2 separate regions of the Homo sapiens genome follow, and region 2 is linked to region 1. Evidence: fine-mapped QTL for protein levels in blood plasma. A gene starts in region 1. The other region holds a variant in brackets. All regions are shown on one strand. Distances are from middle to middle. Region 1 holds the start of MRC1 (mannose receptor C-type 1). Region 2 overlaps MRC1 (mannose receptor C-type 1).

Evidence for each region. PIP is the posterior inclusion probability: the model's chance that the variant is causal. Protein levels are from antibody-based Olink assays in UK Biobank. Linkage for the fine-mapping came from a reference panel and not from the study's own genotypes, which makes the PIPs less certain.
Region 2: its variant is fine-mapped to the plasma level of the MRC1 protein (UK Biobank, PIP above 0.99).

What each region holds. Positions count from the first base shown.
Region 1 is chr10:17,803,155-17,813,039 of GRCh38, reverse strand. It overlaps MRC1 (mannose receptor C-type 1), which reads right to left and starts at 3,692. Exons shown (of 30, transcript NM_002438.4): 1 at 3,514-3,692. The coding sequence starts at 3,574.
Region 2 is chr10:17,846,502-17,856,065 of GRCh38, reverse strand. It overlaps MRC1 (mannose receptor C-type 1), which reads right to left. Exons shown (of 30, transcript NM_002438.4): 7 at 6,302-6,487; 8 at 2,942-3,099. Among named protein-coding and RNA genes, the nearest start is that of MIR511, 6.2 kb to the right of the region's middle. The variant C/T (reference allele first, on the strand shown) is at 8,452.

The DNA.
Region 1 (9,885 bases):
GATTCTAAGGCTTCTCTGTCCACCAAGACGTCTCTCATTATCATTTTTTGCAGATGTTCTAGGCTTTTCATGATACTACCTGACCCACTGTTTGAGCGCCTTCCCAGAGCCTAGAAAGGCTCCATATTGCCCTGGGACCAATAGCAGCAGCTAGCAAGAGCCTATTGTTGGCCAGGTGTGGTGGCTCATGCCTGTAATGTCAGCACTTTGGGAGGCTAAGGTGGGCAGATCACGAGGTCAGGAGTTCAAGACCAGCCTGGCCAACATGGTGAAACCCCATCTCTACTAAAAATAGAAAAAATTAGCCGGGTGTGGTGGCGGGTGCCTGTAATCCCAGCTACTCGGGAGGCTGAGGCAGGAGAATTGCTTGAACCCACGAGGCAGAGGTTGCAGTGAGCCAAGATCACACCATTGCACTCAAGGCTGGGTGACAGAGAGAGACTCCATCTCAAAAAAAAAAAAAAAAAAAAAAGCCTACTGTTGGCATCTCTTCCCAACTCTGCCCCCAGGGGCATCAAGTCAGTAGCTTGAAATCAACCATGGTGGGAATATTTACAGCATGGACATCAGTAAACAGCAAAACAGCATAAGTCAAATCAGTGCTTCCTTTCTTTTCCTTCTTGGAACCAGTAGTTGTTTGCCAATACACCACTACCTGTGAGCCAAACCCTCCCATTTCCAAGTTAAACTTCTTTGCTGTGGTCTAACCTCTGTGTCCCACCGGCTCTCATGGTGCATCTACCATGATTATAACCCAACTGAGCTGGAAACCTTGCTGCTGAGTGCTAAAAAGATAGTGCGGCAAGAACAACAGTAGGAAAGGTGAGCGTCTAGCCCTGTTAACCTCTAGACTCCTGGACCCCTCCAGGGAGAACCAGCCCATCCGTTGGCAGCAGCCCACAGAGACTTATGGTGCTAATGCTGTGGGATGCTCTCCTGAAGGTGGAAGGAAGGGGTGTGGATTGAAAAGAAATAAACTGATGGCAAGTAGGGAGACCTTCCCATGGGTTTTCCTAGTGGGCAGGAAGCCAGGGGAGAGGTGTTGGGGCTTCGCATAGTTTAACCTGCTGCTAACTAAGCAGGTGCCCTGCCTTTACACAAATTCCTCCAATCACATGCTTCTCGGGCCAAGAAAAGATAAAATAAAAGTTACAGGCTGGGTGCAGTGGCTCACATCTATCATCCTGCACTATGGGAGGCCAAAGTGGGAGGATCACCAGAGCCCAGAAGTTTGAGATCGGCCTGAGCAAGATAGTGAGACCCCATCTCTACAAAAATAAAAAAAAATAAAAAAAATTAAAAATTAGCCTGGCATAGTGGCTCAAGCCCAAAGTCCCAGCTACTGGGGAGTTGGGAGTGGGCCAAGGTGGGAGGATTGCATGAGCCCAGATGTCAAGGCTGCAGTGAGCCATGATCACACCACTGCACTCCAGCCTGGGTGACAGAGTGAAACCAGTCTCAAAAAACAAAACAACACAAATTACAGGCTTTCACGTAGGAAAAAAAAATCTGGAAGGGGGGTCCCTTGAATTTTTTGTTTGTTTATTCTCCAAGTAAACAGATCTTCAGCATCCCCCTTCTCTCCCCAATATTTGTGCCTATGAAGAGGAAGACATTAGTCAGAGGAGGGCATCCTGCTGTCAGGAAGAGGGAAACACTCCTGAGCAAACCGAGAAACACTATTGCTCAAAGCATTATTGAGTCAGTTTAAAGAAAATTAGGCACTGTGTCTGTGCTGCCCAGTATGATAGCCAGTCACCTCATGTAACCATTGTACACTTAAAATGACACTACTGTGAATTGAGACATGCTATAAGTATGCAATACTCACCAGATTTTGAAGAGTTAGTTTTAAGAAATGAATGGGAAAATATTCCAAATCGATTAAATGTTGAGGGATAATATTTCCGAGTTACTGGGTGAAATAAAATACATTAATAATATCAGGGCTGGGCGCTGTGGCTCATGCCTATAATCCCAGCACTTTGGGAGGCTGAGGAGGGCAGATCACTTGAGGTCAGGAGTTCGAGGCCAGCCTGGCCAACATGGTGAAACGTTGTCTCTACTAAAACTACAAAAATCAGCTGGGCATGGTGGTGCATGCCTGTAATCCCAGCTACTTGGGAGGCCGAGGCAGGAGAATCACTCGAACCCAGGAAGTAGAGGTTGCAGTGAGCCAAGATCATGCCACTGCACTGCAGCCTGGGCAACAAAATGAGAATCTGTCTCAAAAATAAAAATAAAATTAATTTCATCTATCCTTTTTATTTGGCCTTTTATGTACTTCTTTTCTGCCACTGATTTTAATAGCTAACACTTATAAGGCACTTACTATGGGTCATACTCTGTTCTAAACATTTCACATATTGTTACTCATTGAATCATCACAAGAACTGATGGGGGCAGGTAATATTATTCTTTCCATTTTATAGACATGGAAACTAAAGCACAAAGAAATAAAGTAGCCTGCCCAAGGTCGCAAAGCTAGTGAGTGAGAGAGACAGGATGTAAACCATACCGCCTTCACTTGTGTTTTTGTAATCACTACCACTCAATACTTATGATTTAACATTTGCGGTACTAAAACACTCTCTTCCTAGGAAACTTCCCACCCGCCTTCACATCAGTGCATAGAGTAGATCGTAGGCACAAACCATTCTCTGCAAGTGTTTGTTGATTTCATAGAATTAAAGGGGGATCAGAAATCAAAAAATCAAATTTGAAATCTCTTCTAAATCATCTCCAAATAGAACCAGGAATGAAAATCCCCCGAGGCACTCCCATCCTGAAGTTTAAGCAACTGAGTATAGAGAAATAGAAAAGACAGACTGGAAAAGGTATTTGAGAATTTGAACAACTCTGGAGCTGTTCCTAATGAGTAATCTCTAATCTCCAGAAAAAGAAGAAAAACAGGAATCGATCTGCTTATGCGGCAGTTTGAATAGTCTAGAATACAGATAAGGATGAACTTTCTAACAATCAAGTGTCTGAATGATTCTGGCAGAAAAAAAAATGAGTATGGAAATTGCTTAGAATCTCTTTTGGGGGGATGATCTGCGATGATACCCTCGGACCTAAGACGCGGGGAGACATCAGGGCTGCCCTCCTTCCAGCCAGAGACACTCAGAAGGTGTTTGTTGGCGGTGAGACAGAAATAGTGTGAATTGAAAACCAGAAAGAGTAAACCACAGAGCAGGAAATTTCTGCACGAAGAAAACAGGGAAGGAACAACGAGCGATGAGAGAAGTCAGGAGGACACTGAAGGTCTGTAGGGTTCCCGGCAGGGCAGCAACCGAGACCTGAGACGCATCCTCCTCCCTCCTCCAACTCCAGGCCTCCCATGCCTGGCCGCCAGGTGAAGGCAGCAGGCTTAGCCGTGGACTGCGTGGTGCAGGGGAACCCCGTTTCCTCCTCACAAAGATGTTGAAAGGAACCCATTCACAGTAACCCAGAAGAGGAAGGTGTGGTTCCGGCCCCCCAGGTCAGAGATCCCCTGCCTCAGAGCAGACTTACCCAGTAGGAGAACAGCACCCGGAATGACAGAGGCAAAAACCAGGAGCAGGGGTAGCCTCATGGCCCAGGGTTTATCCTTTCCTTCTCCTGATGGACAGGAGGGCGGAACTAAGACGCAAAACAACGAGGCCCCCCAACTGCCTCTCCACCTAATCCAAGTTCCCAGAGCTGCCCAGCTGAAAAGAACTACAGAGGAAGCCCTCCCTTTTAAAGGGCTCCTGAATTTAGGGAAAGCCTCTACTGAGGAGACATCCTGTCACATGAGGGTGGCTGGAAAAACAGGAATTCAAAGTAACAACTTTGCTTCGTAAGCTAACTTCTGAGAAGAGCAGACGCAGAGGAAGGGGAGAAAGGGACACGTGTGGGAGAGGAGTGGCGGGGTGGGGAGGAGAGAGGGCGATGGTGATGGTGAGGAGTCAGGAAGGAGAGAAGTGAAACAGCCTGGGAGCTCCCGGCCTGCTCAGATGGGGCTGGGTGGAGATCAAGCTGCAGGCCATTACCTGTGCCGGAAGACGGAGCTTCCCCTGGGAAGCAGCTGAGTCAGGGGTCCCTCAGCAGACAACCTCCACTCTGAAGTGACAGCCACACGGGCCCTGGAAAGGACAGTTTTACGCTGGAAACACTTCAGAGTTGAAGCTCATCCCCTTCAGTTTCCACATTCAGTGCTTAGAGCCTTTCTTTTTTTTCTTGGAAAGTTTCAACAGAAAGTTCCGTGGAGCTTCATTTCCTCCAGGCAGAAGAAAAGTGAAAAGGAGGCTACACCTAAGAGGGAATGTCAGTCAGGCCAGGAAGGAGAAAGTTCTAGAAACCTTTTGCTAGAACGTTCTCTAGAAAGCCAGAAAAAACAGTGGTAAAGGATTTGCAGTAAAGCCTTGCTGCCCAGCCTCAACCATCCCGGTCCTCTTCAAGTTTAAGTGGGTCCCCTTGCTAGAAAAAGAAAATCTGGCCAGGCACAATGGCTCACGCCTGCAATCCCAGCAGTTTGGGAGGCCGAGGCAGTCAGATCACCCGAGGTCAGGAGTTTGAAACCAGCCTGGTCAACATGGCAAAAACCCGTCTCTACTAAAAATACAAAAGTTAGCCGGGTGTGATCATGCACACCTGTAAGCCCAGCTACTCAGGAGGCTGAGGCAACAGAATCGTTTGAACCTGGGAAGTGGAAGTTACAGTGAGTCAGGATCGCACCACTACACTCCAGCCTGGGCGACAGACGCGAAACTCCATCTCAAAAAAAAAAAAGAAAAGAAAAAAAAGAAAAAGAAAATCTGATTGTTTGGTCAAAAGGTATATCTTTATTTAAAGGCAAGTGGAATTCTTTCTTAGAATAAAATATGTTTCTAGATCTTTCATTAAGCAGAAAATAACCCTCCAAACATTTATGTTGTCATTTTTCAAAAGTAGAACAGGAATTTAGAACATTTTAAAGCAGAAACTAACGATTAGCTGGCCAAACCGTTACTAGAGTGTGGAATATGTTAGTAATTCAAAAAGAAGCTACTGGAAACATTGTAATTTTTAAAATTTTTTAAATGAATAGTTTTATCTTCAAACGGAAAGCCTCCACATTCGTTGTCTTTGTGATAAAGTTGAAAAGTTTCCATCCTATTAGAAATGTGATGTAGTTCTCTTACTGATTGTTTTTAACATGTAAATTTGAGATTATCCTGACCGGAGGGAAAAAGATAGTGAAAATGTAGGACAGAGGACCAAAGTTTCTTTGTCACTAAGGCTGTACATGACTGAAAAAAAAAATGATGGTTATAGAACAGAACAGACAAAACAAAAATGTTTCTCAGACATTGTTTCACTGGCTTATGAAAATAATAGTTTAAATGGGTCATTTGTGGCTTTCAAATATAAATAAATCATATACAAAAGTGACTGCCTAATTTACATTTATATATATTTCAGAAGCAAATACATTTAATTGAATTATGTATATAATCACATTCAGGGTTGGTTTGTTTCTTTGAGACAGAGTCTTGCTCTGTCGCCCAGGCTGGAGTGCAGTGGTGCAATCTGGGCTCACTGCAACCTCCACCTCCCGGGTTCAAGCGATTCTCCTACCTCAGCCTCCCAAGTGGCTGGGATTACAGGCGCGTGCCATGATGCCCAGCTATTTTTTGCATTTTTAGTATAGACGGGGTTTCACCATGTTGGCCAGGCTGGTCTCAAACCCCTGACCTCAAGTGATCCGCCCGCCTTGGCCTCTGAAAGTGCTGGGATTACAGACGTGTGCCACCATACCTGGCCCAGGGTTTGTTTTTTAATTACATAAGTGTGTATATCACATTAGTAAAATTAAAAATTAGGATCAGTACTAAAATCTGTGAAGTTTAAACAAAATGCAGCCAACCACCCCACAAAGAATTTACCCCATGACCTTGACCTCGTTGAAACAAAGATTTATCAGGCTACAAGAGGCCACTGGGGCAAAAAATAAATCCAAATCTTGGGGAAGGGATGTCACAGAAGATGGTGGTGTGGGAAACTCCAGGAATTCATCCCTCCATCTAAGCAGCCATCAAATGGACAGGAACTGACTGAAGTAACTGCAGGTGCTCCTCTACTCATGATCAAATTAGGCCCTGTTAAACCCAATGTGAGTTGAAATATGCTAAGTCAAAAATGCACTTAATACACCTGACCTACCAAACATCACGGCTCAGCGTAGCCTACCTTAAACGTGTTGAGAACACTTACATTAGCTTCCAACTGGGCAAAATTGATAGGGACAGGAGGCAGAGAAGTGCTAGGTAGAGAAGGGCAGGATCCCTGGCGAGGGCTCCACCCTCGGACCTGTGCCCACGGACCTAAGTGGGAACAGGCACTCCTGTTTTCATGCGCAAATGTTACATTTCCAAGACCACTATGATTCACCACACCCCGCATCCTGTGCCCATAAAAACCTGAGACCTTAATGGGCATAGACACAAGCGCTAAACATTGAGAAGAGTGAAGGAATAGAGCAGTGGAGAGCAGTGGGGTGGCGCAGCAGAGAAAGAGAGAAGAAGGACATCTGGACACCAAGGGGAGTTTGGCCAGCAGTGGTTGGAGAATAGTCTGGGGGGTTAGGCAGCCTGGCTCCAGGGGAAGACCACCTTCCCACTCCACTCCCCACTTCCAGTTCCCCATCCATCTCGCTGAGAGCCACCTACACCACTCAATAAAACCTTGCACTCAACCCTCCAGCCCACATGTGATCTGATTCTTCCAGTACACTGGGCAAGAACTCAGGCTGTCACACTGCCTCCCTGTCCTTGTGATAAGGCAGAGGGTCTATTGAGCTGACTAACACAAGCTGTCTGCAGATGGTATAGCTGAAAGAGCACACTGTAACACACGCCCACTTGGGCTTCAGGAGTCCTAGATGCTGCCGTGGGGTGGAGCCCAAAAGCACTCCCCACAGCCTCTGCACCTGCCCATCTGCATGCTGCATGCTCCCCCCTAGGGGTTTGAGCAGCAGGGCACCAAAGGAGCAAGCCTCATTCCTGTCGCACCCCCTGCGAGGGTCATAAGGGAACTCTTCTATTTCAAAATCATCTAACAAAACCTATTTTATAATACAGTGTTGAGTATCTCGTAATTTATTGGATATGGTACTAAAAGTGAGAAGCAGAATGGGTGTATGGGTATTCGAAATACATTTTCTACTGAATGCACCATTTCTATTTCACATCATCATAAAGTGGGTAAATCATTATGTCTAACAATCCTAAGTCAAGGACCATCTGTATTTGGGAACTAGTCTAGTCAGAAACTTGGAGCATCCAAGGGAGAGCTTGATAAAGAGGCTGGTACATTTCAGCGAATTTCAGCTTCTCCCTGTGGTTATGGCTGTGTCAGGCAGCTGTGAAGGGGGAAGCAGCCCACACGCCCAGTGCAGCTAGGTGAGGCCAGGCCGGGCAACAAGGATTTAGCCCTCCAAATGTCAGGACTGTGTGTTCTGATTGGTGCTTTTATTTGCTTTCATCACTTCTCTTCAACTTAGTACTGGAAGTTCTAATAAGAGCATGTAGGAAAGAAAAAAATAAATAAAAGCATCCAAATTAAAAAGGAAGAAGTGAAATTATCTCTGTACACAGATGGCCTGATTTTAAATGTAGGAAGTCCTAAAGCTTACACACACACACACACACACACACCACACACAAATACCACATACACATACACAATAGACACATACACACCACACACACACACCACACACACATACATACACACGCCACACACACACACATACACACCACACACACAAACTGTAGCACTAACAAATTTAACAAAGTTGCAGGACACAAAATCAAAACACAAAAATCAGTTGAATTTTGATACACTTGTAATGAACAATCTGAAAATAAAATTAAGAAAATTCCATTTGCAATAGAATCAAAAAGAACAAAATACTTAGGAATAAATTTAACTACGTAGACAAAAGACTTGTCCACTGAAAACTACAAATGGTTGCTGAAAGAAAAAGACCTAAATAAATGAAAAGATACCCTGTGTTCATGAAATGGAAGACTTGATATTGTTAAGATGTCAATATTATCCAATATAATCTATAGATTCATGCAATCCCTATCAAAATCCCAATGATTTTTTTTTTTTGCAGAAATGAAAAACCCCATCCTAAAGTTCATATGGAATTTCATGGGAGTCTGCACAGCCAAAACAATTTTGAAAAAGAATGAAGTTGAACGATTCACACTTCCTGATTTCAAATCATACTACAAAATGACAGTAATCTAAACAGTGTGGTACAGGCATAAGGATAGCCATATAGGCCAATGGAATACAATAGAGAGGCCAGAAATAAACCTATGTGGGCAGTTGATTTCCAACAAGGTGCCAAAAGCATTCAATGAGGAAAGAACAGCATTTGTGCTGGGAAAACTGGCCATCCACAGGAAAGAGAATGAAATTGGACTCTTACCTTACATTAAATACAAAAATTAACCCAAAGTGGATCAAATGCCTAAACATAAGAGCTAAAAACTATAAAACTCTTAGAAGAAAACGTCAGGAAATAAAATCTTCACAACATTGGATTTGACAATGATTTCTTGGATTGGATACCAAAAACACAAGCAATAAAAAAGTAGATAAAAAGGCCTTTATCACAGTTAAAAACTGTGTCCACCAAAGTACACTATCTAGAAAGTGAAAAGACAGCACAAAATAGAAAATATCTGTAAATCACATATCTGATTAAGGGATGAATATCCAGAATATATTAACAACTACAACTCAATAACCACAACAAAACCAAATACAAAATGGTCGGTGGACCTGAACAGATAATTCTCCAAAGAAGATATACAAGTGGCCAATAAGCTAAGCACATGTAAAGATGCTCAACATCATTAGTCATTAGGGAAATGTAAATCAAAACTACAATGAAATAGAATTTCACACCCAAAAGAATTATTACTTTAAAAAAACAGAAAATAACAAGTGATGGTGAGAATATGAGAAATTGGAACCCTCGGGCATTGCTGGCGGGAATGTAAAATGGTGTAGCCACTGCGGAAAACAGCTTGGCAATGCCTCACAAAGTTACACTATAATTATCATACGATCCAGCAATTCTACTTCTAGGTATATACCCAGAAGAACTGAAATTAGGGACTCAAACACATATTTGTACAACAATGTTCAAAGAAGTTTTACTTATGATAGCCAAAAAGTAGAAGCAACTCAGGTGTCTGTTAGCAGATAAACAAATGTGGTATGAACATACAGTGGGATATTATAGAGCCGTAAAAAGGAATCCTGATACCTGCTATATGTACAACCTTTCAACATTTTGCTAAGTGAAATAAGCCAAACATAAACGGACAAATATTATGTGATTCCACTTATGTGAGGTATATAGAATAGGTAAATTCAGAGACATAGGAAGAAGAGAGTTTACTAAGGGGTGGGAGGTGGAGGATGGAGGAGAATGGAGAGTTATTGTTTAATGGGCACAGAGCCCATTGGATGTTGGATGATGAAAAGTTCTGGAAATACAGAGTGGTGATAGTTAAACAACATGGTGAATATGTTTAGAGCCATTGAATTGTACAGTTGAAATGACTACAATAATAATTGTGTTATGTATCCTTTACCAAACTTTTTTAAAAATCCAACTCATGCCATCCTGTCTACACCCTTCTACTAAGTTCTGGTTCTGAATTTTGGTTAGCTATTGATGATGGTGGTTATTTTTAACTAGTCCTTTCTTCAAGCTAAAATATAAAGGAAATTCTCATTTTTTTATTGGCAAGACAATCAACTGTGTCATTTCCTCCTAGACTTTCTCAAACACCAGCCACCTCCTACCCACTCAGTTTCACGTATGATGAACTTAGTGTCTGCTTTGCTCTGAAA
Region 2 (9,564 bases), 43 kb before region 1:
CCCTAGTAGCTAGGATTACAGGAACCCACCACCAAGCTCTGCTAATTTTTTGTATTTTTAGTAGAGATGGGGTTTCACCATGTTGGCCAGGCTGGTCTTGAACTCCTGACCTCAGGCGATCCACCCACCTTGGCCTCCCAAAGTGCTGGGATTACAGGCATGAGCCACTGCGCCCGGCCAATTTTGGACTTTGATGTTATTTTCTTGTAACTGTGCCTCAGAGGAGGAAAATTAAGATCCAAGGTTATTGAGAGAAAACGGCATCTACTGAAAGGAAAGGTAATTGACATGTTCATATGTAAACAGTAATTTTGACTCTAGCTACAAACATGTAAAAAGTGATTGGAGCCGCAATATGATTTTATATCTGAGATGTCCAAGCCATTGTTTAGAGGAATCCAGGGAGAAATTAAAAATGTCTGTAAGTCCTTGGATGACGGTGCTCGCAAGAGGTTTGCATGCAGCCTCTTTTTTTTTTTTTTTTTTTTTTTTTTGAGACGGAGTCTCGCTCTGTTGCCCAGGCTGGAGTGCAGTGGCTCTGATCTTGGCTCACTGCAAGCTCCACCTCCCAGGTTCACACCATTTTCCTGCCTCAGCCTCCTGAGTAGCTGGGACTACAGGCGCCTGCCACCACGCCCTGCTAATTTTTTATATTTTTAGTAGAGACGGGGTTTCACCGTGTTAGCCAGGATGGTCTCGATCTCCCGACCTCATGATCCGCCTGCCTCGGCCTCCCAAAGTGCTGGGATCACAGGCGTGAGCCACTGGGCCCGGCCGCATGCAGCGTCTTCATCAATCCCTGCAGTCAGCTCTGTCTTCAAATTAATCAAGTTCATATACGCCATCCAGAAAAATCTCCTGCACCCAACACACCAACTTGAAAGCATCATGAAACCACAGTCATCTTTTCTGCCTTCTTCCTATTTCTACTGATGAGTGCTCCCCTGGATCTGAGGCTCAACCTTCCACTTTATTTCAGATTCTATCCCCTCTCTTTTCCTTTGAGATTTCATGTTAAAAGGACCTCTCCTTTCCTTCCCTTCGCTGCTAAACATCTTGAAAAAAATGTTTTCTGGGCCAAGCGCGGCGGCTCACGCCTATAATCCCAGCACTTTGGGAGGCCAAGGCGGGTGGATCACCTGAGGTCAGGAGTTCAAGACTAGCCGGGCCAACATGGTGAAACCCTGTCTCTACTAATAATACAAAAAAGTTAGCTGGATGTGGTGGTGCACGCTTGTAATCTCAGCTACTCGGGAGGCTGAGGCAGGAGAATCGCTTGAACTCTCGAGGCAGAGGTTGCATTGAGCCAAGATTGTGCCATTGCACTCCAGCCTGGGCAGCAAGAGCAAAACTCTGTCTCAATAAATAAATAAATAAATAAAATGTTTTCTGTATTGTCTGTCTTTAACTCCTCATATCCTAGTTGGTCTCAGCCCAGTGCAATCTGACACGTAAGCCTTTAGCCAGAGTAACATTTATAAATTGCCACTTTGGTTTTACCCCTCCGAGACAACTCATGTTTCTTGAACCTCAGTTCCTACCCACCCTTCCGGCTCTGACTTCATGATTTCAACCACACTGACCTTTCACCTCCTCCAAGCATGCTGCTTTCTGGTTTCTTCTGTCTACTCTTTGGATAGTTAACACCTAATATGTTCTTAAACTTTCAATCCATCACAATAAAAACAACCACAATGACAAAAATAACAGCCACAGTGACAAAAATAAACAACCACAATGACAAAAATTATTGAACAATAAATATGGGCTGGGAACTGTGTACCACACATGCATTATTTAATACTCATATCCTGGGCCTGGCACAGTGGCTCACGCCTGTAACCTCAACACTTTGGGAGGCTGAGGCAGGCAGATCGCTTGAGCTTAGGAGTTCAAGACTAGCTTGGGCAACATGGCAAAACTCCATCTGTACCAAAAATACAAAAAATTAGCCAGGCGTGGTGGCACGCACCTTTAGTCACAGCTATTTGGGAGGCCTGAACCCAGGAGGTCAAGACTGCAATGAGCTGAGATTGCACCACTGCACTGCAGCCTGGGTGACAGAGCAAGACTCTGTCTTAAAAAACAAACAAACAAACAACAACAACAACAAAAAAAAAAACCTCATATCCACAGGTGAGCTAAGTACAGCTCTTATTCCCATTTTGCAAATAAAGGAGTCAGTCACACAGCAAAACTCAGCCTCTTAATCACTGTGTTTACCATCTATTAATAAAAGATAAATTTGATAACATTTTTCAATCACTGAGGTCATATTTCAATCATAAAAGCAATCATTTCATATGACAGCTCCATGTAAACTGAAAAAAATGAATGTAGCTCCCCAAGTACAGCTTCCAGACCTAATCCACCGTAGCTGTAAGTAGATCTGCATCTACTTGGTGTATATATATCTCTCACATATATACGGGGCTACAATCTCTTTTTACATATATATATATATACACACACACACACACACACACACACACATACATATATATCTCTTTTTACATCTCTTGTAATCATATATATGGCTTATAATAACTTTTTATATATACATGCATAATCATATATATGGCTTAATTGGTCAGATGAGAGCTTTGGTGGATATATATATACACCATTATAATATGGCACTATATATATGGCCATGTACATATATAGTGCCATAGAAACAATATGAGTATTCATTACAGGCGAATTTCATCCTTGACCCAAAAGTTTCTGTCCATTGCTTCAGTGATCCTCTTGAAAATTTGACTTTGCTAGACAGTTGAGAGGGATTCAAGAAATCAAATCTGAATTTTGGTTCACCTTTGATCCATGCCAATTTATGTAGAATAAAAACAATCTAAACAAACATATGTAACTGACTGGGACAGAAGGAAAAATCCCCCGTGACTTTCATTATAAATATCAGTCATTCAAGTGGCCTTACCTTGCCTTTCATCACCACACAATCCTCCTGTCTGTTGTTTTCATGGCTTGGTTCTCCACGAAGCCATTTGGTAAACGTTACAGGGGTCCCATCACTCCACTCAAAGTACATTTGAATCTTAATGTCATTTAAGCCGATCCACAATTCGTCATTTGGCTCTAAACAGGAAGAAACACACAGTGGTATATACAAGGGTTGCTTTCCAAAGGTCGGGGGGTAAAAGGAACGGAAGGCACTCTGCTTTATCAACAGGGCTCTACCTCCCTTGATATGATCACCATCATGAAAGATAGTCCTCATGAGTGCTCATCTGACCTACATGCTGTCGACTTAGATGCCAACTACATTTTACCTTGTTAGTTTTAGGCTGTGTAGTGTACCCTTTACATTGTGAATATGACTGTATTCTTTAGTGGAAATATTGTAGATTGTATCTCCTGGCAGTTACAAAAACAAAATTGAGGTAGGTCTATTACTATGCTCTATCTTATGAAGCTGCTTTTATTGTTGCAAATAATTTACCATGCCAACTGCACTCATGTTATTGATGGTAGCCTATTTATATACATCTGTTTGACTATGATTAAATTGATGAATGTTTTCAAATAACAAAAATTTTAAACTGCTTCTATTTTACTGACTCTTGTTATCAAGAACATTCTAGATACTTCCGTTAAAGATCAATCACTGTACTGGGAGTGAAAATTATCTATATAGTGAAAGAATTATAAACCAAGAGGTGAGACTTGCACCTGACATTTGGTACCTATCTATTATGCTGTATATACAAATGAATCTGTAATCATTTTCATCATGAAATGCCAGGAAATTCCAGCAAAACTTAAATAACAAATGAGGGTAAAACGAAAACAACCAATATAGATTTAAAACATGATCATTTTGTTTTGAAATTCTATGGAGAACATTATTGATTTTATAAGTAGGTGCCATGCTAAAAATTCCTAAATATCACAACAAAAATGGGATAAAGTTAAAGTCAATGAAGGTTTAAGATGTCATGGCTAAAAAATAAACTTGTCTAAATTAAAAAAAGTTAAAGAATACACAAATCAATATCTATCTAATTCACACGACTGGGAGTCCCATCATGAATGCTTGATGTATGATCATTTAGTGGTATAATAAAATTAGTTGCCAAAGTATTGTAAAGATGATGTTGTGGTAGAAAATGAGGAAAACATCACAATGTATAAGATTCTCCCTAAGCGGTTTAGTCTCTTCCTCCTGAAAGTTGTCATTCAACTTTGCTTTTGGAGAAGTCTCTAGCTGGCCTGGCGCCAGCACTGGCAGATGTTTCCAGTGCCGTGGAGAATGAATGACACTGCCAGGATGATCCTCTTCTCCTTTCACTTGATTTGCAGATCGTGATCTTTTCAGCAACAAATGCAGGCTTCAAAGTGACCTCATGTACCCCTCAAAGATTTAAATTGAAGATCAAAGAAAAACTAACCTCCTAAGTCCCACAGTTAAGAGTTTCCTATATACATATTTCTCACTAAATTGTTCTCCCCCATAGCTTCTTCAATTCCTAAGCACAATCTTGATCCTAGAAAAATATATAAGATGTGAGTGTAAAGTTGTCATGCTGATTTTTATCAATTAGTTGGGGAAGTTGTATTCATTGGTATAATCATAACTTACGTGTATAGGTCTTAATGTGTCCACTTGAAATATACTTCCATGATTAATACAAAAGGTATCATCTCAATTATGTAAAAAAAAATTTCTAGGTTTTTGTTTAGAAACAATAATTTTAACTTTACAACTTTACTTTTATTAATATTATTTTATTGTTTAAAATAAAATCTTATCAATAATTTTTAATGGAAGGTTTTCTAATTTATTTACTAATTCTCATGCTGAATTTCAAAGCAACTTTGGCCATCCAATTTCCTAAAATAATTATAGCAATAAAAATATCAGGTTTTTTTCTTTCACTACATTATGTTATACAAAGTAGAGTTAAATGTGCACTCCAGTTCTAGAGCATCCTAACTAACCTGTTTTCTGCTAAATCATTTGCAAACTTTACTGGCTATAAGTGCCACACTAAATTTAAGTAATTGTTATTCAGACATACCAGTTCTGATTCCATTATTATCTTCTATTGTGAATTTTCCAGGATAAGTAGACACAGAATAACCAAGAAATTGTTCATAGGCTGCAGCTGGGCTATTCTCGTGGCCTAAGACACTCAATGGGGTCAACACAGGAAGATGGATACCATTTGGCAGGTGCTAGAAGTAGGAGTGTTTCGGGGACTTTTAAGTCTTTTTCTGCTACTACTCTATTTGTTTCTCATCTATTTGTTAGTTGCTTTTTCCTCCCCTCCCCCAGCCCCAATCAGTTTCCAGGCACTATGTGTCAGGAAGCTGTCTCCACCATCTCCACCATCCATTTCCTCTTGTTTTGCTGGGGGGAAATGAAGAGCAGCTGCAGCTATTCAGCAGCCTCATCAGTGGAAGATGAAAATGATCATCATTTAATCAACAAGCACTGCTGAGTGCCCATTATCATTATGCTGTTTCTCAAGCCGCTCATCTTCGGGACAAGCATTCCCAGCTCATTTTATTCATCTATTTTTTTCTGCTTAGTACATTTTCTGTGTATTTTTAATTATGCACCTAAAATTGAGACATACATTTCTTTAAAAAAAATTTTTTTTAGTAGAGACGAGGTCTTGCTATGTTCCCTGGACTGGCCTCAAACTCCTGGGCTCAAGCTATCCTTCCCACCTTGGCCTCCCAAAGTGGTGGGATTACAGGCATGAGCCACCGTAGCTTGGCCAAGAAATATATTCCTTTAAAAGGTTTAGGCTGACATCTAACCATTTCAAAAAAAAAAAAACTCCTATATTTTTCACTGTTCAACACCCTCCCAGCATCAGCTAAATTCACAAAGAAAAAAGAAATCTAAAGTCTGAAACAGTCCATTTAGAAATCTTTTTTAGGAGATAAAATATGGACCTAAAAAAAGAAGATACACACACACACACAGATAATTCCAAGGAATTAAGCATTGTTCACAAGTGTAAGGTAGACTGCTCTGCATCCAGATAATGCATGAAAAAAATAATGTTTTAAAACTACCCATAAATGGATTACACATTAAAAGAAAAAGAAATTGAATTATCTTTCAGTGATAAGAATTCTTTCAATTATTATACAATTTTCACATTGTGGCATTTTCAGCATTTGTGATTAAATTCATACGTTGTTCGTTGAATTATTGATTTACATTGATTAAATTTGATGTTTATGATAGAATTTTCCAGAGTTGGGTAGAAAGGGGTGCTCCCAGGATTAAAGCCAAGTATATTATCACTGTCAAGTTTCTCACCATATCCTAGCTGGGAGATAATAAAGTCCAATTCCTCGATGGTGTGGATACTTGTGAGGTCACCGCCTTCCTTCCTGCAGGTGGTCAGAGCATCCCTCTGGATTTTTTTCTCATCTCTGTGAATCTTGTAACAGTGACCGGCATACGGCCACCACTGACTAGGACAGTGAGTAGGCACATCACTTTCTAGAAACAAAAAGGGGGGTCGGAAAAAAATTTTAAAAGATTTGATTAAAACTATAACAATATTTTAATCATTTTATATAATACATGAAACAGCTTATAGTTACTAGGCAAATAAAGGTAACATTTAGTTTTTATTTTCGCAGCATACATATTCACCAAAAATAGACAAGGCATATACTATTTTGTTGGTTTTTAGACAAAACAAAATAACCTACTTTTTAATCAAATGGGAAATCACCTTATCAACTTTCTTTCTTTCTTTTTTTTTTTTTTTTAAGAGACAAGGTCTCCCTCTATTCCCCAGGCCAGAGTGCGGTGGTGTGATCATGTCTCATTGCAGCCTCAACCTCCTGGGCTCAAGCAGTCCTCCTGCCTCAGCCTCCTAAGTAGCTGCTACTACAGGGCATAAGCCACTGTACTTGGCTATGGGAAATCTCTTTTTAAAAAGTTATATCTACAACAAGACTATACTAATACATATTAGATTATCTAAATCTTGTCAGCAAACCTGAACTAAGCATCTGTTATGCACTGTTTAAATGCTGGAGGCCTGAAAGCTTTGGGGGACTAAACACATCCCCTAAAAGATTTGAATTTACTTTATTCTATGGACATTAGGGAGCCAGTCACTCTTGAGAGGCAGGTTAGTGTTGAAGTAGAGAGCTGGAATGGCTGGGGGACAAACGGTCTCCAAGGAGCCTCCGCCACCATAGCCACATGAGTCAGCCACTTGTTGCCTCAGAACAGACCCACTACCATTTAGTTGCTACCCAAAACTGACACGTGCTTGTGACTAGGAGAGGGATCTGGAGTCATAACTCCTAAAACCTGAATTTGCGGTAAGTTGTGTGATCTTCGGCAAGTCACATCACATGAAAAGGAGTACCCATATAGGTGAAAATTTTTAAATGAGATTAGTACTAACACTAATATCAAACCACCCACCCCATGTTCTTCTGAACTAGAAAAGAATAGAGAGAGTGTGCTTGTAAATCACAAGCACCACACAATCATTATTTAATTAAACCAGCTGTCAACATCCTCAGCCTCGCTACTAATAGGATCAAATTGTATAATCTTGATTATACGCTGCAAAAATTTAATAGTAATGAGCTAGGGGAAAGTGACAATAAAGACATTTGAAGGCAGATGTTTATTCATCCCTATTGCCTTGAGCCTGGCACAGGGCCTGGTACATATAAGCGTATTGAGTATTGGAAGAGAAAAAGAATTGAAGTTATAGTTGATATATGGCTGCTTGTTATTACTATTCTAGAGATACTATTTCAAACAGTAATTTGGCAACATGTTTTGCTTAGAAGGGGACTATATTGCCAAATGAAAGTGAACGTATATATTATTTAAGCTCATATTAAATGTTTTCAAATGGCTGTCTTAGTATATGTTCGTTATAGGGTACCTTTCTTCACTATTCCTTTGATGAATTGGTCGTATCTTCCCTTAAAGGTGGAGAGTATCTGAAACATCATTGTTTAAGCCCAGGATTTTGTGCCCTGCAGTCATACAAGTAACTACTCAGTCATGAGGCTCAAATGCTGTACAATTGTAATAAAAAATGCATATTTAAAAAAATTCTATTCCCTCAATACAATTTAGATTCTGTGCACTTCCAGTGGTTACAAAAAAAAAAAGAAGAAAAAGAAAAAGAAAGCAAGCTTAGTACAGCTTTGGAGCCCTCTGGTGGGTTATTTTAATTTTGCTACCTAGGAAATTGAAAATAGTATCAGCCAATGCTGTCCTTCAAAAACTGAAATGATGAACTTTAAACATATTTGAAAGCATGAAAACAACCAACTTGAGTGAAATGAAGGGGAGTTCCCTGGGGCAGCCACAGAAGATGATTTGTTCCTCTAGCCACAGCTCATGTGCTCAGTGGCCACATGCGGTTAAGTGGCTGCTAAGCCAGAGAGTACAGCCCTAGAGACCTGAGGATTATGGACAAA[C/T]GGGTTAGTGTTACAATAATTCACAGGGTTTGAGGTTGAATTCTTGCCTAAGGCTGTTGCTAATCCCGTATGCTGCATAATTTGAACTCTGATACGCTTTTCCAAGCTCTGGTTTATTTGAGTTTATAGATAAAACAGAATCATTAATCCAGGGAGTATAGAGATGTTCAGAAACTGACATCAAGTGGTTAGCGAGTGAAGAAGGCATCATGGAGGAATAAGAATGTACTGAGTGTTTGATGAAATGAACAAAATTTTATCTCAGGAAGAAGAGTCATGAACATTTCCATTTTACACATGAGGATCCCAGCACCGGCAGGTTAAGCAGTAAGGCCAAGTTACAGAATTCTGAGTGCTGTACCAGAGAAACTATAAAGTAACTATTCTCCTCTTTGGCAACATGGAAATTCCAAGTCTTAGAAAGAGAATTGTAATGAAGGCTTCCAAAAAAGGAAAAAATACACTATTTCTCCTAGAGGAGGAATAGTAGAGGTAAAATGCAAAAATGGTGAGCTTTCTCTAAAGATACCCACCGTCACTATGGAGAGCCTGTAAAGGATAATCAAACCCAACATCCAGGTCCCGCATCTATATCTATTTAGGATCTTGGCCAAATCTATATCAATTAAAATTGCAAACACATCTCCTCCCTAATCCAACAATTCCACTTCCAGGAATGATCACATGCATGAAATGATGTGCATAGAATGTATATAGTTATTTACCTCAGGACTGTTTGTATTAATAAAAGATTGGAAGTAAATTAAATTAAAAATCCATTACACAGGAGATCGGTCAAAAAAATATATGTGCTGTCTCTGCAATAGCTTTTGGACAGCCATAAAATTAAACATAGAAGCTGTTTATATTCTACGTGGAATGATGTCCAAAATTGTTGTTAAGTGGAAAACTTAGGATAAAAACATATTATAGTATACTGCCATTTGTATGAAACAAAAATAATTATAAATATATTTGTTTATATAGTCACAGAATAACTAAGGATACACACCCAGAAACAATTATTCTCCAGGAAGGTAAACTGGGTGTTACAGGTGAGAGGTAGGGAAAACCTTATTATTTATCATGTTGTATCTTTTGAATCTCTAGCTA